Homo sapiens: one gene and its partners. The protein of the gene in region 3 interacts with the protein of the main gene of each other region in a biochemical or structural test. Each region holds a gene or a part of one and is shown on either strand. Other genes may lie near its edges. The genes, in order: CHRM2, CHRM5, RGS7 and PKD1.

Region 1 (7,027 bases), on a different chromosome or scaffold from region 3:
TAAAGAAATGGCATAGGTTCTAAAATTTGGTAAACACTCAAAAAACAGCAGCTGTCATTTCGTGGTTTTTGTTGCCATTATTATTGTCACAGAAGAGTATCTCACCCCAAATTCTGAAATTTCCCCTGATAAGGATATAACTAGCCATGGAAAATATCCAGTCAGGCTTATTTTAAAATAAAGCAAAACTGAGATTGCTTGTTTACTGTTGAATGATACCCAGTTGCCAGAGAGAATAGAAATTAAACCTATATCATCTACCCTTCCTCCTGCCTTCAGTACCTCCATCCAGCATAGCACAAAGAAAAATAAAGTCTTTATTATTTAGGCTTACATGCGAAGACATAACTGCCTACTCCACTGATAAAATCTCATAGAAAAGTAATTTTGAGGATAAAGCAAGAAAACAGTGGGCATATCTGGGAAACATGCTTTGGCCCTGGGGCTGCTCTTTATCTTCTCCCTAAAATGAAACCAAATGCCCTGATGCTCTCCAAAGAACACAATTAAGTAGAATTTTCTTATCACTTTCTATTTTCATGCTGGTTATGGTAGAAGCTCTTCCCTTTGTAACAGTGCCAAGGAAGGCAGAGTATTAGAAAATCTTCATCGTGTTCAACAATGTAAAACAGGTTGTGAAATGTATTTTTTTCCTCTACCAATCAAATTATTCTGTGCTTATCTTTTATAGAAAGGAAGAAAAATTAGGCTTCAGGTAATTATTTAGCTCACGATCACATTCCTCCTAAAGAGTTCCTTGGTAGTTAATTAAATAAGAAATAAGAAGCTTGTTTTCCAACATGATTCTGTCTTGTTTATTGGCTTGGCATGAATGAGGAGGTGAAGAACAGCTTATTTGCTTTATTCAAACAGAAGAATCATCAGCATGACTAAGGGTGAACAATAACATCAAGAAAAGTCATTATAACTTTCTTATTCCTAGAGGAGGTATCATACCCGCCTGTTACTTGGGATCATCAGAATGCAACAACATTTTGCAACAATGACAGTGAAATGTATCAGCATTAACATTTAAGACAATTCTCTCACTTTCTCTAACTCCTCCACTAGAGTTGGGAGAGAAGAAGAGGAAGAAGTCCAGGTGCTTGATCCAGCTACATTAGTAATAAGAATCTACACAGAACACCAGATAGAAGAATGCAGAGAGGAGCTCTGGAATCATGAAGATATATATGATCTGTGAAGATATTAAACGAATGAAAGGAATTTAAGAAGGAAAAAAATAAGAAATAGAAAAGAAATCAAGTACTTATTTCTTAAGTAGCCGAGACTGATTTAACTCCAAGGACATATTGTATGCAAATGGGACTGTGTCCCATCTAAACACACAGGTATCTAGGTTTCCTCTACATTGAAAGATGTGCTTCTTAATCTATAGCTGTCTTCCTGAACCGTTATTCATTGTTCACACTAGAATTTGCCTAACAAATCAAAAAGTCTCCGGCTACAGCAAAGCTCTCTGTCCGGGCCCTAATGGAAAATACATATAGTACTATTGGCAGCAACATTTTGAGTTGTACATCCTATCTTCTTTCCTCCTTGATGCCTTCTATGTTCCAGTTCATCAATCTGTTATTTAAAATGTAGTCCTGTGATTTCCCACCTCAGTATCATGGAAGGGGCTGGTTAAAAATCTAGATTCCTGTCCCTAATTCCCAGCCTGACTCAATGTCTTTACAAGAGGAATAAAGTGTCTCAGATACTCAACCTGTGAATTAATCTCTTTTAAATGACTTCTTAGAAGATAGTAGTTATTTAAGTAATTCAGAATCTTATCATTTAAAGCACTATACCTGGTGACATGAATATTGACTTTTGAAAAAGTGGGCCCAGTTCTGCCAAGAGGTCAATATTCAAGGATATTTAGGATTCTCAGCCTCAGAAAAGAGAGGTCCTGTTTTTCTGAGCCCAATAAATACAGATAGCTTCAAAAGACTGCCTCGTTACTACAGTTTTTGTTATGTATTTTGCACTAATCTTAAAAATGTAGATCCTCAGTTTTATTGTTGCTGTTACTCATTGTCCATGTGCTGGAAATTTGAACTTAAAATAGCCCTCAGCCTATGAAGTTGCCTACAGTTTCTTTGATACGATAAAATGGAGGGGTACTGTGGGTATCTATGCGGTTGCACACTATGCAATAAAATAATAGTAAAATTATTTTGAAAATAGAAAGTGGTTTTAAAAATTCCACTTAATTGTGTTATTTGGAAACATCAGGGCATTTGGTTTCGTTTTAAAGAGAAGACAGAAATACAAATGTAAGTGTATATTGCCATCATTTATAAAATATGGCCTCTATTCTCACGTCATCTGTATCCCTAACAAGTTCTAGCTGTTACTCTACTACCAGCACCAGATAAAACCATCCAAGTTGCCTAGCATTTTTATAAGTTAACTCCTTTGTAAATAATTTGTTTTTTAAAATAAAAACACCCATGGCTTCGCCTTCCAAAACATGTTGCTATGAATAATAAGGGCTAAAAATGTCATTATTATTATATTGATTAGGTATATAAAAATAACAGGAATATACTGAGCACCTAGTGGGCACCAGGTGGTGCACATGGCTGTGAGAGATTAAATGAGATAGAGGATGCCAAATATTCATTAACTTCATCATATTATATCATACCTTTTCATGAGTATTATTATTAGTTTGAGGAATGGCTAGAGTATAAGTGTGAAGCTTATCATTGCCTGTTAGTATTATAATAATAATAAATTCCACGAAGAGGAGGAAGAGGAGGAGGAGAATAAAGGGGAAATAAATATATTGGCTAGTATTTATTTAGCATGTACACTGTACCAGTCATTACACTAAGCTATGTGCATGGATTCTTTCCTTGTGCAGTTGGAGGATGAAGAAATGCCTGTGAGAAAGATGGCTGGCAAAACAGCTCTATGAGCTATGGAAGCTCTCACATGGGTTTGATCTCAGGGTTTATCCTAGACTGTTGAGAAACACTGAAGAATTTTAAACAGGAGAACGACATGTTCAGATTTGCATTTTAGAAAGGTCACTCTGGCAATGTGAGGAGTAGCTTGTACTAGAGAAAGACTGGAGAGTGGGAGACCGGTTAGAAGCATATGGCTCTGGTGATAGTTCATGTGAGAGGTGCGAAAGGTCTGAAAAGATGCCCGGATGGAAAGAGGGGGATGGATTCCAGGGAAGCCTCTGAGGGAACAGATTTAACCTGGGGTCTGATCAGAGGGCAGCAGTGGAATTTGGAATGAGAAAGAAAGAAGATATGTTTATAGCATATCAACCTCACTTCTAGTTTGCCATGTATTTAGGGATTAATAAAAATGTGCAGCTTGATATTATTATTCACACAATCATGTAAGTAAGAGTAAAACGTCTACGTTTCTCACCTAACAAATACCTCCACTCTTTCTTTCTCACGCGTGTGTGTATGTGTGTATGTATATGTATATATGTATATATATTTTTTTCTTGCTGGAGATATATATATATATATAAAATTCATGTGTGTGTATGTGTGTGTATATATATGTATATATGTGTGTATATATGTATATATGTGTATATATGTATATATGTGTATATATATACACACATACACACACATGCATTTTTTACATATATATATATATATTCAGCAAGAAAAATGTTTCCATTCTAAAGATAGAAGACTTCCATTTAGAAGTCTTAAAGACTTAAATGTGCAGAATATTCTATCAGACTATCCTCCCAGGGATATCTCGGTGGCATCTCTTTTTCTTCCATAAGAACATTTTCATAACAATGTTAAACCTGTAAGGGTATAAATATCCTTCCCACCCCTTTGCCATAACTGTATACATAGTAAACAACATTTGACATGCCCAGACAACAAATGTATTCTACTAATCTCTTTGCTTAAAAACATATTAATTCAAAGTCCTTCTTGCTTAGGTCCAGTTGAATTTTTGTTTGAAATTGAAATTCTCCCTAAGCTTTAAAACGGATGTCCTTGTCCTATCCAATCCAATGTGCTTCCAGTTATTGAACACCAGAGGGCATCATTCAGTGAAAGCTTGGATTTGGGAGGGAAGAGGGGAGAGAGGGGGGGCAGAGAGAGAGGGAGGGCATGGGGGAAGACAGAGAAAAAAAAGAGAGACAGAAGGAATTCCATTACTAATGAAAGAAAATGAGAAAACTGAGTTTTTAGTGTGTACCCTTATCTACCATGAAACATTACCATGGTAACAGCACCAGTTAAGATGATTGTATATTTAGGTCATAGTATAAAAGAAGGAGCTAGAACATGTGAAGAAAAAAAAAGAGAAATAAATAAAGTAAGACAAAGATATATAAAGAGTGGAAAGAGGCAAACCAACTGGAACCTACCTCATTCTTTGCTAATAGCAGTTTACAAAGTAACATTATACTTTTCAAAGCACATGTGGATAATAAATACTAATTAAAAGTAAATGGGGCCATTGAAATTCAGAATCTTAAGTGCCAACAATCTTATAGAAAAAGAGAACTCATTTAGCATGAAAAAATGGAGAGACAACTAGACTGGGATTGGGATGTGTGTGTTCTTATGCAGTTCTTGGTTAGCTGTGTCACCTTGAAAAAGTCTCTTGATCTGCTTCCTATCATGAACTCAGCTGAATGATATCAAAATTATCTTTTATTACTATGCATCAGACAAAAGAACTTCTGTTTAATAATGTCTTAGTATTGCTGAGAGGTGAAAATGGCATCTGCCAAAATTTTGGTGCCCTCGTTTACCTCTGCCAGAGGCAATCACTGACTAAACAAGACAAGCACGTGCCAACTAAGAGCCTACTCAGCACTGCCTCTTCTTTGCTTAAGGTTTGGAGGATCTAACAAAAACATGCAAAGTTGTATTAACAGATGGGGAGAACATCATTGAACTTCTGAATGCCATGGTTTTGTTTTCCCCAAACACAGGGAAAACAAGTGCCACAACTATTTATAGCGAACCGATTGACACACTATAAGAACTAAGACAGTGGAGTCCAACAAGCTTGTGTTTGAATCCAGGGGCTGCAACTTACTAGCTGTATGATCTCGGGTCATTACCAGACCCCTCTGAATGCTGATTTCTTCCTGTAGAAAATAACATCTACTACATAGGATTGTTGCAAAGATAAAATGAGAAAATTGATTGCTGTATTAACTCATTCAAAAGAGATTTAATATGTTTCTTAGGTATGCCTGGCTGTATTTTAAGCAGTGAGGCTAAAGCAACTGACAAAACAGAAAATATCATATGGGAAGATGCTTAGAATAATGCCAAGGACTTAGAATACACACAGCAAAAATACCTGCCTAAGGAAAGGTGACTTGCATCTCTTTCCCCACATACCACCTCCACCACATAGGCCAGGTGAGCTGTGGGATATGCAATCAGTATACTTATGCCATTTATCTTAAATGAGAGAAGTCCTGATGCCTGCTCAATGAACCAAAGGTGGACAGAGTGGGTACAGGAAGCAAAAGCCAGTTGTTAGTAGTCACAAGGTGGACATTGGTGGCTTTCGATACATAGGAGTCTCTTGGGAACTATGCCACGGAGAGTCCATGTCATAAAATCTCAAGCAAGTCAAATATAAGTTTAAATAAAGAAAACCAATTCTTCAAGAGAACTGTGTGGCAAAATGTTTCTGTCAGTCTCTGTCCTATTGAGTAAAGTGGGAAAAGTTTAAGACAGGATTGAGAATGGTGTCTGGGTGATCTTGTGAAGATAATAGAAAGGGTTCGCTCACATGCATATTCTAAACAAAGGCTGACATCAGTGATGGAGGTTGAATCCAGCACGATTATTGATATACCTACAGATTCTTGTCCTCATTTTTCTCTCTCCCATTCCGTCTTCATTTCCCTTTTGTTCTAATTTCTTCTCTTCTCCCTCTTTTGTACTTGTTTTAACTTTACTCATTGTTGTGGGTCAGAGAGACATAGGACTCCTAATTAGCCAGCCTAACTTCCATTGAAGACAGTGTCATTCATGCTTTTTGTGCCTTCCCTACCTGCCAGCAGTCTGGGACTGTTTTCTTTGGATCTCTGAAACCACCCATTCCTATTGGCCCTGGGGAATGGCTGCTCTGGAATTGGAATTGGAAAATTGTCCAGTAAAGACACATCTGGATGCTTGACTATCTGGACTTTCTGGGCAATGAAGGCGATAGGGTCAAATTTAGAGCAATATGTGTTTTTGTTTGTTTGTTTTTTAACATGAAGACAACAGTCTCAGCCTCCCAAAATTGAAGGACCATGGGAACTCACTCCAAAGGGACTTTTACCAGTATTTCACCTGCTAGTTCTTTCCACATCTGACTCTGAAGTTAGTTGAGAGCTGAAAACATGCTCTTTGGGTTCCCTTTTACTGGAACTATGACAGTATTCAAATCCACCTATTTGCTCACTCCAATTTGCCTCCAGGCACCCTCAAGCACCCTTCTACAAACAAACATGCCTCTTTATTTTATAGGAAAATGAAGCATCTTTCAGACAGTCTAGCCCTGGGAATTTGGAGTCCCAAAACTTTCCCCCATTCCCACCCCACCTCATTCACAGAGCTTTATTTTAAAATGGTAAACAGATTTGGCTGGAGTTCTCACCTCTTTTTAGGGTCAGGTTAAATTTTTTAAGTTTTAATTGGCATTATTGTCTAGCCCAGGAAAGCAAATAGAGTCAATAGGAAGTTGCTTATCCATTGTATTGCTGCAACTGGAACACATTTTGATAATAGTAGTAACAATAATAATTCACCTGGCATTAATTTGTTACTTCTGAGTCCTCAGCTGCCAAGCCTGCAAAGCTGGGACATTGTTGGCACAAAATTCTTCCATTCGTTTGACAAGTCTCAAAAGTCCACTTTCTGAACTGCAGCCGAATACAGTTCCCAGCTTAAAATTGTCTCTTGGCCAAGTCAATTGTTCTTACTCCTGTGATCATCAGTGCCTTTATTATTAGCTCCCCAACAATGGCACAGGTATGCCTGTTTGTGGCTTCTGTTTAAAAATA
Region 2 (7,027 bases), on a different chromosome or scaffold from region 3:
AAAAATGGCATCTAGGTCAAAATGAACACATCCATTTCGTGTATGTTGACATAACAATCTTAAAAAGTAATTTTTGTCTGAAATACCAAGCAACATAATTTTGTATATAAAATTAGAAACATACCTAAAATTCATTTTTCTGTGTTAGCATTCAACTTAAAGGGACATTGCATAATATTTTTAAATGCATTAAATATATATTTACTTATATCTTCATTATTATAACTTTAAGTTTTCATAAGGAATTTTTTTCATTCCATTATAATGGCACCGTGTTTCAAGCTTAATTCAACTGGGCATTTCAACTAGCCAATATATTTGTTCCTTATTATGGTTAATTTTCCTTATGAAGTGACCAAATTTGAATAAGGATGTAGTTCACCATGAAGATCATCTCCTCTCCAGCTTCTTCCTGCTGAGAGAGAACAATCTTTGGTTTGTGACATCACAATCTGTGACTGGGAAGTGGCTCTGATATCAAACAGATGATTATATGCTTTCAGTGTGAACTAGCTAAAAGAGAGATGTAAGCACTATTATTTCAAGTCATATCACCAAGACACTAAAGAGATGCATGACAGGAACTGAATTAGAGAAAGATGCTTTTATTGCATTTGTCACTTTTTCAGCATCAACTATTAAAGATAAAAGTACCATCTCACAGTTTTCTCATTAATAATTCAAAAGCGGGAGTAAACATCATGTTGGTTAAATTCACAGACCATGATAAAACGGGAGTAAGGAAAATACCAGTAAGCAAGCAGACAGTCATGAAAGAGGCCCCTAGAGAACTGAGAAATAGATGCAAAATTTCACCTTGGTTCAAGCAGAAATACTGATGCTACTCAGAAAATTGAAAAATTACCAAAACACCCAAAATGAGAAAGACGGTGTCTCTGAATGAGAAAGAGATCCCTAAATATAGATTATAAAGTGATCCCATGACATAGATTAATTAGTATCTGACACATGGACTAGTATGAGGGCAGGGAGGGGGCTGGTTAACACCTTTCTAAAACAGCATGGATTTGTTAAAAAACAAAAACAACAACAGAAAACAAAAACAAAAACAAAAACAAAAAAACAAAGGACTGTCTTGAATTAGCAAAACTTCTGTGTTCTCTGAAAGTCTTCAACAAATATTTGTAAAAAATAAATAAAAATAAATCAGGAGTTAGGGTTCAATTAAGGAAACAAAAATGAAAGCTCCTTTTACAAACACATAGGCATATACAGACCTCTTTTTGTAATCTTTGTTTGCAACAGTAGCCAAAAGACAAAGCAGACCAACTAATCCTTCCACACTGAACACATGTGCAGTCTGTCCTTTGATTAGTGGCAATACCCTGATTCAGAGTATCAGTCATTTGTGACTGACCCTCCTAGACTCAGAGCCTATACAAAGATGATGTGTAAAAAATACAGTTAACTACTCCACGCATAATTACAAGTCAAGCTGAAGTCTCATTATCTACAGTTACACAGATTGCTTGATCCAGTGGTGTGTAGAGAATTCTTAAAGCATTTATTCAGTCCTATGTACTGGTTCATTACAACCAATGGGTTATTCAGCAGTTGTTTAAAGATCTGACATTCTCCATTTTTTGTATTGAAATTATTAGTGAAATAACTCAAGAATCTGGACCAATCAGAAAACATTACCACTTTTATAGACATTGTTTGACGTCACACTGTTGTCATCATCAGACTACGTGGGCCTTCTTATTTCCTGATTATCACTATAGAAATGTAGCACTGAATAATGTGTTCTTTAAGAAGCAAAAGCCAGAGATGATTTCCAGTTCAGTTATCAACTAAAAATCCTTAGCTATTTATAGAATTTTTTGGTACAGTAACCTAGAAAGCTGTTGGTGTAAATCTATCAGGCTCAGTATATAACATAGTACAACTCTTAATATTTCATCAACTGTATACCTTCCCTTCATTTGTGTTGCAAAGACAGTCCTCTACATGCAGTAACTTCTGGGTAACTTCTGGTAATACCTACAGAAGAGCTTCTCATGCCTAGGAACTTCCCCAACACTTTGAGGATACTTCTTTCATAACACCTTGTTAGATTCCATTGAAAACCTATTTATGGCCAAGCGCAACCTGTAATCCCAGCACTCTGGGAGGCCAAAGCTGGAGGATCGCTTGAGGCCAGGAGTTCGAGACCCACCTAGGCAACACAGCAAGACTCCATCTCTATAAAAAAATCTAAAAGTTAAAAAAATAAGAAAATCTATTTATATAGTTGTCTGACATACGAAATTGCATTTTTCATGGTTGAGGGCCTTAAGAGTAAAGACCACATCTAATTTATCTGTCTATTCCCAAGGTAAGCTCAGGACTAGTTAATCAGCAGATGTGTTAAATGAATGTGAAAATGTATCTTAATGCATTCTCAGGTACAATCTCAGACAGCCAGAAGAATAGTGATCCTAAAATATACCTCAGCTGCATTTCACTGATAATAGGCAAGTAGGTAACTGCAGAAAAGTCTAATGAAGGAGTCTTTTAAAGTAGTTTATACTGAAATAATAGCTATAAGGAGATAATATCTGTTAGGGATAGTATATGATATTATGAGGTATGCAAATACAGGATAGCAAATTTATCCCTTATGCTTTTGCTCTATTTGACATATGGAAATCACGTTTGCTATACTACTAGATCTAGAATTTCATCGATAATCCAAAAGGATCTAAATTGGTCTTGCTATTAAAAAGTGACTTCAGGGGAATTTGAATAAGTACTTTGCAAATGAAATTGAAGAGATACTACAGTCATCTTTCTATTCAAAGATGAGTGGAGAAAGTGACACACTTAAAATCTTACATTTATTCTGTTGGATGCTCTACCTGCCCCCTCTCCCTCTTTCACTCTCTGTGAGGAATGAATCTTTGCAAGTTACCTATGTTATATCTCCCCAAGTCATCTCTTCTCCTTATGCCAACATACAATATACCAACAATGGTGATTTCTTTAAAAGCAGGGACAAAGGCTAAAAGACTATGCTGTGCCTCAACCCCTATGATAGAAATTAAAGTAGCAGAGTGTTGAAGTAGGCCAGCATCACTCTAGAATTCATCAACATGTGTGTTGGGGTGGGGGCAGCTATAGTCTGAAGATGCTCAGGGTACATGAATAATGCATGTGTACGTCCTCACAGAAATCTGTGATTTGATGTTGGCGTGCACAACTTAAGATTTTGAGCTTTGGGCCGGGCACAGTGGCTCACGCCTGTAATCCCAGCACTTTGGGAGGCCGAGGCAGGTGGATCACCTGAGGTCAGGGGTTTGAGACCAGCCTGGCCAACATGTTGAAACCCCGTTTCTAATAAAAATACAAAAATTAGCCGGGTGTGGTGGTGCATGCCTGTAATCCCCGCTACTTGGAGGCTGGGGCCGGAGAATCGCTTGAACCCAGGAGGTGGAGCTTGCAGTGAGCCAAGATTGCACCATTACGCTCCAGCCTGAGCAACAAGGGCGAAACTCTATCCTGAAGGAAAAAAAGAACAACAGATTTTGAGTTTTGACATCCTATCATGTTTTTAGCCATGTTCCTTCTTTCAAACACCATCTTAGATAAAATATCAAGATATAAGACATATAAGAGCAGATCTGCCCTGGTTGGGTTGAGACAGAAAGCTTAGAGCCCGCAGGTCCCCTTCTCACCCCATCTCTTCTACACTCTCTCCTCCACACGCTTCTTGGACACCTTCTAAGATATGTTTGTTGTAATTGTTCTGCCATCTAGAGGATTCACAAAGATATTCTTCTCCATTTTAATGCAAGTTTTTGATTCCATATAGACACTGCCAAATACTCTAACCTAAAACTCCTGGTATATGTCAAGCAATAGTATTTTCTAGAGCAAGAGGGCACAGGTTGCGAAACAGTGCTACTTAGCTATGCGGAATGCTACTCAATTATTCTGCTGCCTAAACATTGATCAAGCAACTAAGACCTAGGATTCAAATAAATTATAAGTTGATTTTAAAAAGGACTAAACATCTATAATTTGGGTTGGAATATTCCAGAAGTAACTAAAATTAACAAAATCTCAAAAAATTATTTGCAATCAAGAAAGCATAGAAACAAAAAGTGAGAATTTGTCATAATAGAACTCAGAATTCAGTGTGAGAAAACAACAGAATTTGTTAGAAATACCAGGTCCCAGCTGGGCACGGTGGCTCACGCCTGTAATCCCAGCACTTTGGGAGGCCGAGGCAGGTGAATCATGAGGTCAGGAGTTCAAGACCAGCCTGACCAACATGGTGAAATCCCATCTCTACTGAGAATACAAAAATTAGCCGGGCGTGGTGGCACATGCCTGTAGTCCCAGCTACTCGGGAGGCTGAGGCAGAAGAATCCCTTGAACCCGGGCAGCGGAGGTTACAGTGAGCCTAGATTGTGCCACTGCACTCCAGCCTGGGTGACAGAGTGACTATGTCTCAAAAGAAGAAAAGAAAAGAAAGAAATACCAGGTCCCTTGCATAATATTCTAGTATTATTTCACCTAACAACATTATACCAAACACTGGAGTTGTCCTGAGTTGTTTCCAGGTTTGTGAACTCTGCAATTTACTTGCTTTTGCAAGTGAGATGGGGCTCAAGTATTTAAGCTTGAACCTCCATATATAACTAAATATTACAACCAGCAGGATATATTGGATAAAATCAACTTTTAAAAGAGGAAATATGATCTTCCATCTAAAAAAGCCATGTTTCAATTATTATGACATACTATTTATATTACAATGTATTCATTTGCATTCAGTGATCATCTCCAGCACTGTCCTGTTCACTAAGGAATTCTCATAACTATTCATCCAAAATCTCAAATGATTCCTGCTTTGAAGTCAATCTCCTAAGTGAGTAATGTCGCTTTTTTCTCTAAAATACTTTAAAATATTTTCAAATATATTCTTGAGATTCAATTTTAAGTAGAGTTATTTTAAACCAACAACCAATACCCATGGACTTATTACACAGCTTTAATATAAATTTCTGCCATGCCCGCATCAGATTTTTTATGGCCTCTCCATAAATGGATCTGGGAAGAAAAACTCCAGTAGACAACACACTTTTATTCTGTAAGTGTATTAGGAACTGGTTAAAATTTATATATCTTTATTTAGGCTTTTTAAGTATCAGGAATAGGACCTTCTGCAGGCATAATGGTATATCTCCATTTAAAATATTTTAAATAAATGTAAACAGCAAGACAGAAACAAAAAAAAAATTTAACATAAATGTATTGTACCTCTCCTGTCTCAGATGACCAGCTGAAATTTTTAACATAAATTTATTGTACCTTTCCTGTCTCAGATCCCCAGCTGAACTTTTGAAACAAACATCCTAGGCATAGAAACATAAGCTACTTTATTTTTCTATGCCTTTTCTTCCCATCCCTGAGTCAGCCAGCCTCCTGTGGTATAGTGACATCCTGGATGGAAGTAAAATAATCAAAATTACAGGGTCCCTTGGGAAGGAAACCAATTCCCAGCAGTGATTCCTTATATAGAAAAGAGATAGCTAAACTCATGGTCACAATGGCATGAATTAGTTATGGCAAGGTTAATATCTTGTATAGAAAAAAATAATTTTTGGCTTAAATTGGTACCAAGGAGATAGGAAGGTTGAAAGGCTGTCTCCTCACTAACAAAATCCGCACTACCTTTTTTAGCAACAAAATGAACAAAAAACACAAAATATACATTTAAAGGGAACACAAAAAGCTGGAGTTCTTACATGAGACAGGGAAGCTTGCCTTTAGGATAACAAGAACAAGCTCCAATACTCTTACTCTAAGACACTTTTTCTCATATATTGGTAGGATAGAAAGATCATCTGATTAGCACTTCAACAAAGCAGAAGATGAGACAGATTCAAAACAAATCCTCCCCTTATCATCTCCTCCTATACTCCCTTACTTTTATTTACAAGTACATAAAATACTGCATATTATAATGAATTCCGGTTTCAAACCTTGACATTCTCTTTTGTTAGGAGGCTATGACAGCGTGCTTTGATTCAGGGTGTTGTATCCCAGCCTCGTGGCCTCACTGAGCACCATTCTTATGCTTGCTCTCCTCCAAGGACACTTTGGAAGAAAGGATGGTACATACATATTTTCCTTCTCATTACAGCCCTATGTCTATGTCTGTGAAATTTTGAACCTTGAAATTCTGACTATTTCTACAAGTGAAGAATCAAACGTTCTCTATTACACTCTAAGTTTCCAATAATATGGTCTCAGAGCAAGTAAGTCCTCCCTGGCAAAACAGCCAGGTTTGAATTAGAAAGGACTATTTCAGGCCAGGTGTGGTAGTTCACCCGTGTAATTCTAACACTTTGGAGGCCAAGGCAGGAGGATTGCTTGAGCCCAGGAGGTCAAAGCCGCAGCAAGCTGTGAACACGCCACTGCACTCCAGCCTGGGTGACAGAACGAGCCCTGTCAAAACAGAGAAAAAAGAAAAGAAAAGAAAGAGAAAGAGAAAAGGAAAAAGAAAGGAAGAAAAGGAAGAGAGGAAGGGAGGGAGGGAGGGAGGGATGGAAGGATGGAGGAGGAAGCGAGAGAGGTAGGGAGGGAGGGAGGACCATTTCAAAAGTCACTATGTCTATATAAAACTATTTTAAAAACATAGAAATTCAACCAGAAAACCTTAGCGATCCAAGTACATGAAGAAAGAGGAAATTTCTCTCTAGGCAGAACCAATGCAGACTGGCCGTTCTGAACAAAGTGACACGTATTACTAATATTTCCTGAGCATCCTCTGAACATGTGTGGTACTAGACTACAGCAAACCCACTGTAGACACAGGAAGTCTCTTGAGTGAGAAAAACAGAGTGGGGGAGTACATTTAATAATTGGAAATAAAACATCAAATGAAAATTAAAGCGTACAGGCCGGGCACGATGGCTCACGCCTGTAATCCCAGCACTTTAGGAGCCCGAGGTGGGAGGATCACCTGAGGTCAGGAGTTCAAAACCAGCCTGATCAACATGGTGAAACCCTGTCT
Region 3 (7,027 bases):
TAAACCATTTAATTGGCCGTAACACCAGGAAGTACATGAATGGCTCTCTAGGAAGAGAACGAACTAGACGGTCTGGGAAAGGCAAGCAGGAAAGAGCCCCTCTGCTGGGGCAAGTGCTGGATTGGAAAAGGGGGATCTAGACAAAGCTATTCTAAATCCAGTGACATCTGAAATGGGCCTGGAAATAAGCATAAAATATAAAGGGGTTGAGAAGTTAATAACCACACCTACACTGTTATGTAAGTGCAGGCACTGCTCTAAGTGATTCACCTATATTAACTCATTTAATTCCCACAGTAATTCTATTAGGCAAGTTCTATTATTTCCCTCATTTTAGAGAAGAGGAAACTAAGCATATGAAGATTAAGTTGCTTATTTAAGGTTGCTCACTATTACTGTCACAGCTGAGGTTTGCTCCCAGAAGATCTGCAGCAGATGACATGCTCACAACCACTCCCTCACACGGTCTTTCTAACAGCATCATTGCCTTTCTTATTCTCACCATTACTGTAATTATTGTAATAGCTTAATAGCATGGAGGAGCCAGGTGCAATGGCTTGCACCTGTGGTCCTAGCTACTCAGGAGGCTGAGGTGGGAGGATCAGTTGAGCCCAGGATTTCAAGGCTGCTATGAGCTATGACAGTGTCTCTGAACTGCAGCCTGGGTGTCAGAGAAAGATCCCATCTCTCTTAAAAAAAAAAAAAAATCCTATATCCTTTATATAGGTGGAAGCTAAGTAAGTATTTTTAATGTCTTTGATTCTTGATTTCCTCATCAGTAAAATGGGATGATAACGCCTATTTCACTGGGTTTCCACTGGATTAATTGGTTTCCATTGGATTAGTTGATTAAATTAATTCCGTTAATGTATACTAATGATATAAATTATATAGAAGGCACTGAAAAGTACTTGGCATATTTTTAGTCACTCAAAGATAAAAACTCATGATATTACTATGTTTTCTTAGCACTTGCTCTATGCTATGTGTTTTGCTCAAAAAAAAGAATGAGGGAAATACATCATAAAATTTCAAGTTTCTGCTCTCTATTAGGGAGAGCAGAGGGTATATTTGAAGCATAAGTAGTTATCGAGAAACAGTGCTTCTTATTTTTTTCCTGTCCTAATATTTGAAAAAAAATGCTCAGACGAGTGACACACTCACTGATAGCAGGAGGGCAGCTGTTTAGGTAAGATGCACGGAGAGTTATTTTATTTTAAGTGCAATTCACAGCCCTGTTGACCACTGGACCATTTTGTCTCCTTCAGTGTGTGACACAGATATGTCAGTGGAAGCAGAGTAGGGCTCAGATTTGGGGAGCAGTGGACAGTAGCTTGGTACTGGTTTGTAGGAAACCAAGAATGCCACTTACATGCAATCTGACCTCCTTAGCCACACTTTCTCGGCTTAACCTTCCTCAGCCACGCTTTTCTCATCTATAAAATGAGGCAATATTTACATTTTATGTTGTTTTGGTGGTTGGATGTGTGATGATCAGAAATAATGAATGCAAAATATAACAGCATACTTATAAAAGTAGTAGATATAAAATATATTCTGGTGTCTTGTAGGTATTCAAGAATTAATCTACATCTTTCATTTATCTACTGATCTATACTTACTAAGGAAACATATGATAGGCAATATAGTAGATACTCAAGAAATATATGTATATGTGTGTATGTATATAATGTGTGTGTATATATATAAGATAATCTAATATTTCTTAGATATAATCACTTAGCCTAGAGTCTAGTACGGCATAGAATGATTAAGATATGAAATGATTAAAGCTTGAACTAAGAAATTGGCAGGAATTCAATTCATGCCTGAAACCTAGTATGCACATGCTATCCTCTTTTTCCAAAGGCATCTTCTCTCTTCCTGTTTTGATGGTTTATCTCCTCCCCATTGTCCAGCTCTTAGCCTAGAAGCGATTTCCCCTAGTATCCCTTCGCTGATCTCTAACTCTGGGCTAGGCATCCCTCTCTGCTTCTCCCAACTAAACACCCATGATTTTGTGCTGTGATTTGTTTTCTTGTCTGTATCTACCAATAGACTGTAATTTTAATGAGAGAAGGCGATGTTTTTATTTGGCTAGGTGAGGCTGGTAAGGCTTATTACTTATTTATTTACTCATGATGATACAAATGATATCAGCATGTTTTCAAAAACTTAGAGAATGAGAGGAATGTCCATCTCCCTAGCCACTAAAATGCCTCAAGGATCCTTTATCTCTGCTTTATTTTTAATGCATTCTTTTTTTTTTTTTTTTTTTGAGACAGAGTCTTGCTCTGTTGCCCAGGCTGGAGTGCAGTGGTGCAATCTCAGCTCACTGCAACCTCCACCTCCTGGGTTTAAGCGATTCTCATTCCTCAGCCTCCCCAGTAGCTGGCACTACAGGCATGTGCCACCATGCCCGGTTAATTTTAATTTTAATTTTTTGTAGAGATGGAGTTTGCCATGTTGGCCAGGCTGCTCTCAAATTCCTGGCCTCAAGAGAGCCACCTGCCTCGGCTCCCAAAGTGCTGGGATTATAGGCGTGAGCCCTCGCACCTAGCCTTTTAATGAATTCTTGCACTCAATTATTGACAATGTGACCTAATATAGAAAATGTTATTAGTAGTCTCAATACAGAACTTTAGCAACTTTAGCAGCAAGATCTTGCAAAAGCCCAAGCATGAAGGGTTCCCATAAACTGGAAGGAGAATAGGAAGCTGCATGCCAGCAATCCATGCCAGGCACACACAGAGAGTTACATTCCTCCGGGTTCTGTCTGTGGTCATTTTGCTTCATCCATGCGACATGTGTCAGCGTCCTACATCTTTCTGAATGGTTTGGGATTCCTACCTGTTAAATCTCCTGAAAAGAACGTGACCATGCCTGGCACTACTTCGTTCCAATGAAAATAAATGAATGCAGAGAACTTTCAGTAAATGAATTTTACAGGACTGCATAAGTCATGGAAAAGTAAAAATTGGGCATCAGCTTTCAAAAGAATAATGAATGAAAGAACTCATGAAACAACAGTCTTATATAGTGGAAAGTTATCACTCCCTTCAATGATGTTAAATAGAGCTATTAAAATCCACTCTAATGTCTTATATTTAAAAATGCAATTTTCAGATCCTCCTTATGTTAGCAAGTTTTAAAAATATATAAAGATGATGTTTACAACAGATGGGCAGAATGGGTGTCACTCTCTCACGAACAGCTCAATGCTGTGCTGCTCTCAATTGCCCTGTGGCTATTATTTAAACATGCAAAGAGAATGAGACAGCCCAATAGTTTGGTTTCAAGTTATTTGATATAGCTGCCCAGTCTCTTCTTCTCTAACTTGCTTGAGAAGTGATACGCAAAGATAGTCAACAATGACAAATAGGTGATATTTTAATTGAACTTCATAAATGTTATTGGCCAATCTCCACTTTGCCAAACATTGTTCTCTGTACTGCATTTCTTTACAGAGTCCATTTCAAAGCCACCAAATTTGTATAGTTAAAACATCTGGAGATACAGAGACGGCGTAAAAATAAGTTATAAGAAATTGATACGTTGGACAGCCTTTGCCTTGCTATCTCTTTTCCCTTCATTAGGTGGCAGAAATTCAATGGGTTCATGACATCATTATGATGTTAGTGGAAGAATAATTGATCTATTACCTCCAAAATAACCAGACACATCACAGACAGTATTTCTCTGGCTTATAAGATCCAAGCAATGTGTTTTACCTTAAATTTTCCGAGCTGAATTCTGACTCTAGAAATTTAAGGAACTGTTCTCTCCCAACTGGGTCTTTCAATGCCTCGTCCATGCCAAAACCCCATCGTTTTACCCTCTGCTGGCTCGGTTCTTTGCTATAGAAGATAAAACAAAGGCAAATACATTCCTTTCATTAGAATTCCCATTTTTTTGTTATTACATTCCCCTTCAAAATCATGTGTGCCTCGAAGTTCCCATCTTTACCTTTTCTTTAAAAATATATATATCCGATTAACGGCTCTGCATGAAATCATCGTGTACATTAGTATTAATAATAAAGTCTAACATTTATTGAGCATTATGTGCCAGGCACTTTACATAAATGGTCTCTTTTTGTTTTTGCCAACCACTTTATGAGATAGCCACTATTAATCTTATTATTTTCCAGATGAGGACAGTGAGGCACAGTATTATCACTTGCCAATGTCAGGCAAGTAATAAGGGGTAAAGATCCAGATATTCTGACCCCAGTGCCACATTTCTTTTTTCTTTTTTTTTTTTTTGAGATGGAGTTTTGCTCTTGTCACCCAGGTTGGAGTGCAATGGCGTGATCTCGGCTCACTGCAACCTCCACCTCCCGGGTTCAAGAGAGTCTCCTGCTTCAGCCTCCCGGGTAGCTGGTATTACAGGCACCTGCCACTATGCCCGGCTACTTTTTGTATTTTTAGTAGAGATGGGGTTTCACCACTTTGGTCAGGCTGGTCTCGAACTCCTGACCTCAGGTGATCCACCCACCAAAGCGTCCCAAAGTGTTGGGATTACAGGTGTGCGCCACCATGCCAGGCACACATTTCTTAACCACTACGCCACACAGGGTCATGCAGGTATATTGAACTGGGGAAAATGCATTGGTAACCAAAAGATCTCAATACTAGCTAATGATTCTGGTGTCAATTAAATCTGTGACCTAATCCCAACTGAGTCACAACATTTTGGGGTTCCAGCTTTCTCATCTATAAAATCTTTAGCTTGTGGAGGAAGAGTTCTGGGCATGTCCAGTGTTTAAGATTCATGGCTGGATGCAAAAGTGAGAGAGACCAGAAATGCAATCTAGAGAACTGCTAGAAGTGTGACAGAGCACCCATCTTTTCTTTGTAAAGTGATACGCCATGATCCTCTTATGAGTCTGTTAAGACTGATGATGTAGTTCTTTCCCTAGATAGCTCATGAAAGAAACTATGGAGTCCTAAGTGGTGCTTTGCTTTTCTTAGGAAGTGTCTTGCCAGTTTCTCTTACAGTGTCTATGGTAAGCTCATTCTGTCTTAAAATTGAATTTATAAAGACATACTTGTGTTGGGCTTAAGTATGTATGGCTTTAGCATTCACTTTACTTGACTACATGAGACTTTGTGGCTACGTGAATTTTCCAGGAAGATAATAGCAATGAGCTAAATTTCAAGAGCTGAAGATCCTAACTCTGACTAATTGCACCTCTAATTTTGGGACGGTCTTTCCAGCAATGCAAATCTTAATGCAAATGCAAATCTTAATGCAAATGCAAATGTCTAAGTTTCAAAAGCCATGATCTCGAACAAGAATGTTAGATATAGGCCAATGTAGATAAAGAACAAAATTACATTCACAATTAGCCAACAATAAAATCCTTCCCATTTCACTCAGACCCTGAAATAAAGCAACATATGGGCGAGAAAGATAAAATGCCACCTACCTTGCCTCAAGTTCCCAGAAAGTGGTGTCATCGGACAGCCATGGGTTAGAAGGGTCAGGTGGCAAAAGAAACGGGTCGTATTCTAAATACTGTTCCGTGTAACTTAGTAGACTAAGGAGAAAAAACATTTCCAGTTTCTTTAGTTTTCTGACTGGGGTTGCAGCCAGTCCAAAGCAGGGAAAACAATATAAAAATGTGGGACCAAGGAATCCTTGTTCACTTAAAGCATGAAATCCAATGGCAATCTTCACGCTTCAGTAACTTTCATGCAACAACTTATTGTGCTTCTTGGCAGACAACTGTGGCTAAAGATTCCATCTCTACCCATGCCTAAGCCATGTAAATCAGTATCCCTTGGTTAACATGAAGCACTATGGAAGAGGTCAGTGTGTGAAGGGCACCGCTAAGAGTCAGTTCCAATCTTTGGTTAATCAGTCCACCCACAGCAGAACAGATTTTATACAACTGAGAGAAGGGCTTAAAAGGGAAATTTTGTCAAAAGTATTTACAGGAATTAAGTAAAATGGGAGCCACTGACAAGTTTTTTAAATGTATATAAAAATTTTAAAAAGGGAGAAGGGAAAGAAGTTGGGGAGGTAGGATTTGGCAATGCCCAAAAGTGAAGAATATGAATGGCATTAAGAACAGATTTAAATGAAGCAAAGGAAAATATCTGAAATTTGAGTTTCATTCATATTCTGAAGTCAGGCAGGAACAGTGTCAATTGTCATTGTTAAAATAAGTTTATAGAGAGGCTCCAGTTTGCCCAAAGGTCATCAATAAATGGAAAGTTTCATGTCTTCCAGCAGGAGTGAAAAGGCTAGACTCTGCAGAATTATCCTCTATATCTGATTCTTAGTGGAACAAGGACTGGATGTCTAGACATTTAAGACAATTATAATCATTCTGTCATTTAAACTACATCAAAAGAGTTCTTTGAAAGTTTTTCTATGTGCAAAAAGGAAAACAAAATCACATTACTTACAGGATTCCAATTATCTGTCCCAACTCCTGTCCCCACAGTTCTCTTTCATTTTTAAACACATGTAATTGTCATATGAAATTTTAAAATTTATACAGACACTTTGAAATACTCACCTGTCAGCGACTTTTGACATTTTTAACCGATGTCTATCTAACTGTATTTGCCAATATTTTATCTGAAAAGAGGGTTAGAGAAGGAGTTACATAAGTAATGACATTTTCACAATTTTCCACTCTAAATCATGATCAGCTGGGCAATTCTGAACAAGAGTATAGTCTACGTCAGTACAATTTCAAAGTTGGTTAAAAAAATAGAAGCAGAGGGCTCTTAAAGAGTTAACAAAATGAAATGTTGGAATTTGAACACAATTGATATCACTTTAGAAGAGCAATGAGTTTGACCATTCTGCCTACTTTAACAAAATGTGATTTTATTTTAAAATTGTAGAGATTTTGCTGGGTGCAGTGGCTCATGCCTGTAATCCTAGCACTTTGGGAGGTCAAGGTGGGTGGATCACTTGAGCCCAGGAATTCGAGACCAGCCTGGCCAACATAGTGAGACCCTGTCTGTAAAAAAATATATACAAAAAGTAGCCAGGTGTAGTGGTGCAG
Region 4 (7,027 bases), on a different chromosome or scaffold from region 3:
CAGGGCCTGGTTGCCAGTGGGGGGCTGGCATAGACCCTTCCCACCAGACCTGGTCCCCAACACCTGCCCCTGCCCTGCAGAAACCTGAGTGGGAACCCGTTTGAGTGTGACTGTGGCCTGGCGTGGCTGCCGCGATGGGCGGAGGAGCAGCAGGTGCGGGTGGTGCAGCCCGAGGCAGCCACGTGTGCTGGGCCTGGCTCCCTGGCTGGCCAGCCTCTGCTTGGCATCCCCTTGCTGGACAGTGGCTGTGGTGAGTGCCGGTGGGTGGGGCCAGCTCTGTCCTTCCCAGCCAGGTGGGACCTGGGCCCTGCAGACACTGGGCAGGGCTCAGGAAGGCCTCTCTGGGGGGGGCCTCCGGGCCAAGGGAACAGCATGGGAGCCTGTGAGTGCGGCGGGCGGATGTGGGGGCGTGGGGTGGAGCCAGGAGGAGCAGAACCCGGGGTCCAGTGGCTGCCTCTTCTAGGTGAGGAGTATGTCGCCTGCCTCCCTGACAACAGCTCAGGCACCGTGGCAGCAGTGTCCTTTTCAGCTGCCCACGAAGGCCTGCTTCAGCCAGAGGCCTGCAGCGCCTTCTGCTTCTCCACCGGCCAGGGCCTCGCAGCCCTCTCGGAGCAGGGCTGGTGCCTGTGTGGGGCGGCCCAGCCCTCCAGTGCCTCCTTTGCCTGCCTGTCCCTCTGCTCCGGCCCCCCGCCACCTCCTGCCCCCACCTGTAGGGGCCCCACCCTCCTCCAGCACGTCTTCCCTGCCTCCCCAGGGGCCACCCTGGTGGGGCCCCACGGACCTCTGGCCTCTGGCCAGCTAGCAGCCTTCCACATCGCTGCCCCGCTCCCTGTCACTGCCACACGCTGGGACTTCGGAGACGGCTCCGCCGAGGTGGATGCCGCTGGGCCGGCTGCCTCGCATCGCTATGTGCTGCCTGGGCGCTATCACGTGACGGCCGTGCTGGCCCTGGGGGCCGGCTCAGCCCTGCTGGGGACAGACGTGCAGGTGGAAGCGGCACCTGCCGCCCTGGAGCTCGTGTGCCCGTCCTCGGTGCAGAGTGACGAGAGCCTCGACCTCAGCATCCAGAACCGCGGTGGTTCAGGCCTGGAGGCCGCCTACAGCATCGTGGCCCTGGGCGAGGAGCCGGCCCGAGGTGAGTGTCTGCTGCCCACTCCCCTTCCTCCCCAGGGCCATCCAGATGGGGCAGAGCCTGGTACCCCCGTCTTGGGCCCACACTGACCGTTGACACCCTCGTTCCCACCGGTCTCCAGCGGTGCACCCGCTCTGCCCCTCGGACACGGAGATCTTCCCTGGCAACGGGCACTGCTACCGCCTGGTGGTGGAGAAGGCGGCCTGGCTGCAGGCGCAGGAGCAGTGTCAGGCCTGGGCCGGGGCCGCCCTGGCAATGGTGGACAGTCCCGCCGTGCAGCGCTTCCTGGTCTCCCGGGTCACCAGGTGCCTGCCCCCACCCCCCGAGGGGCCATAGGTTGGGAGATCTCTGAAGCACTGGGGCAGAGCCTGCGGCTGGGGAGTCTCAGGAGGAAGGAGGTGGGAGCTGGGCCGGCCCTGGTGAGCAGGTGGCGCCGGCCGGTGGGGCCGTTCCTGTCAGCTCTGCAGATGCAGAGGTGGACATGAGCTGGGGGCAGCCTCCGGACACTCCTGGGCACGCCATACGGGAGGTGGCCTGCACGGGGATCCCTGCCGGTACCCACAGGCCCCGTGGGTGGGTGCTGCTGTGAGCCTGGGCTGGTGGGCCCTGGTCTCCGGGCTCTGAGCCTCAGTTTCCCCATCTGGAAAGGGGGACAGTGATGGGGCTCCCAGCGGGCTGCTGTGAGGGTGGGAGGATGGAGGAGTGCCCTGAGCCCCCTGCCATCCCACACCCGCCCCCAGGAGCCTAGACGTGTGGATCGGCTTCTCGACTGTGCAGGGGGTGGAGGTGGGCCCAGCGCCGCAGGGCGAGGCCTTCAGCCTGGAGAGCTGCCAGAACTGGCTGCCCGGGGAGCCACACCCAGCCACAGCCGAGCACTGCGTCCGGCTCGGGCCCACCGGGTGGTGTAACACCGACCTGTGCTCAGCGCCGCACAGCTACGTCTGCGAGCTGCAGCCCGGAGGTGTGCGGGGGGCCAGGCAGGGGCCTGAGACGCTGGCTGTGGTTAGGGGCCTGCCGAGCGCCCGCGGTGGAGCCTGGGCTGAGGAGGAGGGGCTGGTGGGGGGGTTTTCGGGCGGCTCGGTCCCCAGTCTGTTCGTCCTGGTGTCCTGGGCCCTGGCCCGGCGCCTCACTGTGCACTCGCCACCCCAGGCCCAGTGCAGGATGCCGAGAACCTCCTCGTGGGAGCGCCCAGTGGGGACCTGCAGGGACCCCTGACGCCTCTGGCACAGCAGGACGGCCTCTCAGCCCCGCACGAGCCCGTGGAGGTAGTCGGCCCCCCACGTTCTACAACCTGCCCTCCTGCCTGCCCCTGGAGGCCTTGCCTGCCCTGCCCACTGTGGGTCTCGCCAAAAAACTTGGGGGCCTTAATGTTGCTTGTGCCCAGTGAAGATGGTTGGGAAAATCCAGAGTGCAGAGAGGAAAGCGTTTACTCACATTACCTCCAGGCCTTTTCTCTGAGCGTGTGTGAGTTATTCCTGAAAGGCAGGTCAGGGGTCCTGCCCCCCATGGACAGTTTCCACCGGAGTCTTCCTCTCGAGCGACAGGAGCCAGGCCTGTGGGGGTCTGATGGCTCGCTCTCCTTCCCTCCCCTCTTCCTGGGAAGTTCGGGTAGGGGGAGTCTGGGCTTCAGGCTGGGATGGGGTCTGTGGAGCTGAGGCGGCCCCCTGCCCACCAGGTCATGGTATTCCCGGGCCTGCGTCTGAGCCGTGAAGCCTTCCTCACCACGGCCGAATTTGGGACCCAGGAGCTCCGGCGGCCCGCCCAGCTGCGGCTGCAGGTGTACCGGCTCCTCAGCACAGCAGGTGGGACTCTGGGTGGTGGGTGGTGGGTGGTGGGCGCCGCAGGACTCGGGGTGGCCTCTCTGAGCTTTCACGTCTGCTGGTCCTGTGGCCACCAGAGTGGTTCCCAGTCTTAGGTGGACAGAGCAGGGGTTCCAGAGACACCAGCTCATTCCAGGTGTCCTGGGGGTGGATTGGGTGGGGCCTGCCTGGGGGCCGGCCTGGGTCAGTCGGCTGGCCGGAGACGGACGCAGCACTGGGCTGGGAGTGCTGCCCAGGTGGGGAGACCTGTCCTCACAGCAAGGCCAGGATTGCTGGTGCAGGCAGTTGGGCATCTCTGACGGTGGCCTGTGGGCAAATCAGGGCCCCAACACCCTCCCCTCCTCACAGGGACCCCGGAGAACGGCAGCGAGCCTGAGAGCAGGTCCCCGGACAACAGGACCCAGCTGGCCCCCGCGTGCATGCCAGGGGGACGCTGGTGCCCTGGAGCCAACATCTGCTTGCCGCTGGACGCCTCCTGCCACCCCCAGGCCTGCGCCAATGGCTGCACGTCAGGGCCAGGGCTACCCGGGGCCCCCTATGCGCTATGGAGAGAGTTCCTCTTCTCCGTTCCCGCGGGGCCCCCCGCGCAGTACTCGGTGTGTGGCCCTGACCTGGGTCTGTTCCCTGCATCTCCTCAGGCCACCTTCCTGTCTGCTGCCCAGGGTCTGGGTCTGTGCACCAGACACACCCAGCCTGCAGGCCCCTCCCACGTCCTTGCCACCTCTGACCTCCGACCTCTGCAGTGCCCTCGGCCCTCTCCCAGTGGGAGAAGCTCTCGCCTGGGCCCTTGGCACGAGCTGTGCCTCCTCTTCCTCTCTCCCAGCACAGCTGCTCCTTCCTGTCTGCCAGGTCTTGGCCTGTGTCCTCTCCCCGTGTGTCCCCCGGTCTGCAACTGTCCTGCCTGTCCTTGTCACGAGCACTGTGGGGAGGCTCCTTGAGGTGTGGCTGACGAAGCGGGGAGCCCTGCGTGTCCACCCTCATCCGTCGTGCGGGGGTCCACGGGCCATGACCGTGAGGACGTGATGCAGCCCTGCCTCCCTCTCCACAGGTCACCCTCCACGGCCAGGATGTCCTCATGCTCCCTGGTGACCTCGTTGGCTTGCAGCACGACGCTGGCCCTGGCGCCCTCCTGCACTGCTCGCCGGCTCCCGGCCACCCTGGTCCCCGGGCCCCGTACCTCTCCGCCAACGCCTCGTCATGGCTGCCCCACTTGCCAGCCCAGCTGGAGGGCACTTGGGCCTGCCCTGCCTGTGCCCTGCGGCTGCTTGCAGCCACGGAACAGCTCACCGTGCTGCTGGGCTTGAGGCCCAACCCTGGACTGCGGCTGCCTGGGCGCTATGAGGTCCGGGCAGAGGTGGGCAATGGCGTGTCCAGGCACAACCTCTCCTGCAGCTTTGACGTGGTCTCCCCAGTGGCTGGGCTGCGGGTCATCTACCCTGCCCCCCGCGACGGCCGCCTCTACGTGCCCACCAACGGCTCAGCCTTGGTGCTCCAGGTGGACTCTGGTGCCAACGCCACGGCCACGGCTCGCTGGCCTGGGGGCAGTGTCAGCGCCCGCTTTGAGAATGTCTGCCCTGCCCTGGTGGCCACCTTCGTGCCCGGCTGCCCCTGGGAGACCAACGATACCCTGTTCTCAGTGGTAGCACTGCCGTGGCTCAGTGAGGGGGAGCACGTGGTGGACGTGGTGGTGGAAAACAGCGCCAGCCGGGCCAACCTCAGCCTGCGGGTGACGGCGGAGGAGCCCATCTGTGGCCTCCGCGCCACGCCCAGCCCCGAGGCCCGTGTACTGCAGGGAGTCCTAGTGGTGAGTATGGCCGAGGCTCCACCACCAGCCCCCAGGCAGGTGCCTGCAGACAGGGTGCTCACACAGGGCGTGAGGCCTGGCTTCCCAGTGAGGGCAGCAGCCCAGTTACTGGGGACGTCGGCCCCGGGCAGGTCCTGCTGGCTGGCTCCTCGGGCTACCTGGTGGGCTTTAAATTCCTGGAAAGTCACGGCTCTGACAGTGGCTCCGCTAACTCATTCCACTGTCTCATTTCACAAAATGAATTTAAAACTCTGCTCCCTGACCTCACACGAGCCCCCGTGAGTCTCTCACGCCCTCTGCTGTGTTCTCGCCTGGCTAAAGCGAGTGGCTTTTGAGGTGGAGTCTGAACCCCTGATGGGAAACTGCGGGCTGCCCGCGGTGCCACCATGCTGGGTACATGGGGGACAGGGCTGTCTCCATCTTGCGGGTACCTGCCTCTTCACCAGGGGCCTTGGGAGGGGCCATCAGAAATGGCGTGACCTGTGCAGCCTGTCCTGGGTTCTGTAAGCCAGTGTAGGTGCCTCCCCTCACTGCTCCGAGCTCTCTGGGTGAGGAGCTGGGGCAAGAGCGCCGGGAGGGTCTGAGAAGACTCAGAGAGAGGTGGACTCTTTGTAGCTGGTACTAGGTTTGCTTTACAGATGGGGAAACTGAGGCACAGAGAGGTTGAGGCATTAGTAGTACTACATGGCTGGCTGGAGAGCCGGACAGTGAGTGTCCCAGCCCGGGCTTGGCTCCCATGGCATGCAGAGCCCCGGGCACCTCCTCTCCTCTGTGCCCCGCGTGGGACTCTCCAGCCCGACGGGAGGTGTGTCCAGGAGGCGACAGGCTAAGGGCAGAGTCCTCCACAGAGCCCAGGCTGACACCATTCCCCCCGCAGAGGTACAGCCCCGTGGTGGAGGCCGGCTCGGACATGGTCTTCCGGTGGACCATCAACGACAAGCAGTCCCTGACCTTCCAGAACGTGGTCTTCAATGTCATTTATCAGAGCGCGGCGGTCTTCAAGCTCTCAGTAGGTGGGCGGGGGTGGGGAGGGGAGGGGATGGGGCGGGGCAGGGCGGGGGCGGGCTCCACCTTCACCTCTGCCTTCTGCTCTGCTTCATGCTGCCCGAGGACGCTGCCATGGCTGTGGGTGAGTGGAGGGAGGGACGCCAATCAGGGCCAGGCCTCTCACCTGCCACCTGGGCTCACTGACGCCTGTCCCTGCAGCTGACGGCCTCCAACCACGTGAGCAACGTCACCGTGAACTACAACGTAACCGTGGAGCGGATGAACAGGATGCAGGGTCTGCAGGTCTCCACAGTGCCGGCCGTGCTGTCCCCCAATGCCACGCTAGCACTGACGGCGGGCGTGCTGGTGGACTCGGCCGTGGAGGTGGCCTTCCTGTGAGTGACTCGGGGGCCGGTTTGGGGTGGGCACCAGGCTCTTGTCCCAGCCCCAGCCTCAGCCGAGGGACCCCCACATCACGGGGTTGCTTTTCTGAGCCTCGGTTTCCCTGTCTGTTGGGAGGTAACTGGGTGCACAGGAGCCCTGAGGCTGCACGGGAGCCGGGAGAGGCCTCAGCACAGCCGGGTGGGCCCTGAATGGAGGCCCGGGGCGTGACTGCAGAGTGGAGCCTCGGCTGGGTCCCAAGCACCCCCTGCCCCGCCACCGCCCACCCCTGTCCCGGTTCACTCACTGCGTCCCACCGCCCCGGCAGGTGGACCTTTGGGGATGGGGAGCAGGCCCTCCACCAGTTCCAGCCTCCGTACAACGAGTCCTTCCCGGTTCCAGACCCCTCGGTGGCCCAGGTGCTGGTGGAGCACAATGTCATGCACACCTACGCTGCCCCAGGTGAGGGATGAGGGGGTGAGGGGGCCACTGCCTTTCAGGCTCTGAGCACGGGGTCCCCCCAGCTCCCCAGTCAAGCTGCCCCCCTTCCTCCCCAACAGCCCTCACTGTGACCTCACCTGGGCTGATGGCTTAGGCCCCTACTGGGGTGAGGGAGGGGCCAGGCGTGGGGGGAGTGGACAGGGAAGCTGGGCCCCTGAACTGCGCCCCCCGCCCTCCCCGGGCCTGGCTCTTGCTGCTCTGCTGCCCCGAGTGCAGCTGCACTTGGAGGCGGTGCCGTCCTCGCCAGGCAGCCCTCAGTGCTGCTACACCTGTGCTCCGTCCCGCACGTGGCTTGGGAGCCTGGGACCCTTAAGGCTGGGCCGCAGGTGCAGCCGTTCACCCCGGGCTCCTCAGGCGGGGGGCTTCTGCCGAGCGGGTGGGGAGCAGGTGGGGGTGCCGCGG

What was found.
Region 1: the proteins of RGS7 (region 3) and CHRM2 form a complex in vitro, tested with the Homo sapiens proteins (one study listed by BioGRID).
Region 2: the proteins of RGS7 (region 3) and CHRM5 form a complex in vitro, tested with the Homo sapiens proteins (one study listed by BioGRID).
Region 4: the proteins of RGS7 (region 3) and PKD1 form a complex in vitro, tested with the Homo sapiens proteins (one study listed by BioGRID).

Annotation. Positions count from the first base shown.
Region 1 is NC_000007.14:136,871,638-136,878,664, reverse strand, and holds part of CHRM2 (muscarinic acetylcholine receptor M2), read right to left. Parts: intron 1-7,027. UniProt on the Homo sapiens protein: The muscarinic acetylcholine receptor mediates various cellular responses, including inhibition of adenylate cyclase, breakdown of phosphoinositides and modulation of potassium channels through the action of G proteins.
Region 2 is NC_000015.10:33,971,470-33,978,496, forward strand, and holds part of CHRM5 (muscarinic acetylcholine receptor M5), read left to right. Parts: intron 1-7,027. UniProt on the Homo sapiens protein: The muscarinic acetylcholine receptor mediates various cellular responses, including inhibition of adenylate cyclase, breakdown of phosphoinositides and modulation of potassium channels through the action of G proteins.
Region 3 is NC_000001.11:240,808,187-240,815,213, forward strand, and holds part of RGS7 (regulator of G-protein signaling 7), read right to left. Parts: intron 6,592-7,027; coding exon 6,530-6,591; intron 5,543-6,529; coding exon 5,432-5,542; intron 3,858-5,431; coding exon 3,732-3,857; intron 1-3,731. UniProt on the Homo sapiens protein: GTPase activator component of the RGS7-GNB5 complex that regulates G protein-coupled receptor signaling cascades.
Region 4 is NC_000016.10:2,111,899-2,118,925, reverse strand, and holds part of PKD1 (polycystin-1 isoform 1 precursor), read left to right. Parts: intron 1-80; coding exon 81-250; intron 251-463; coding exon 464-1,135; intron 1,136-1,253; coding exon 1,254-1,437; intron 1,438-1,872; coding exon 1,873-2,093; intron 2,094-2,281; coding exon 2,282-2,397; intron 2,398-2,807; coding exon 2,808-2,934; intron 2,935-3,300; coding exon 3,301-3,548; intron 3,549-3,775; coding exon of another isoform or gene 3,776-3,891; intron 3,892-4,000; coding exon 4,001-4,756; intron 4,757-5,633; coding exon 5,634-5,765; exon of another isoform or gene 5,766-5,769; intron 5,770-5,860; coding exon of another isoform or gene 5,861-5,885; intron 5,886-5,962; coding exon 5,963-6,138; intron 6,139-6,452; coding exon 6,453-6,586; intron 6,587-7,027. UniProt on the Homo sapiens protein: Component of a heteromeric calcium-permeable ion channel formed by PKD1 and PKD2 that is activated by interaction between PKD1 and a Wnt family member, such as WNT3A and WNT9B. Both PKD1 and PKD2 are required for channel activity.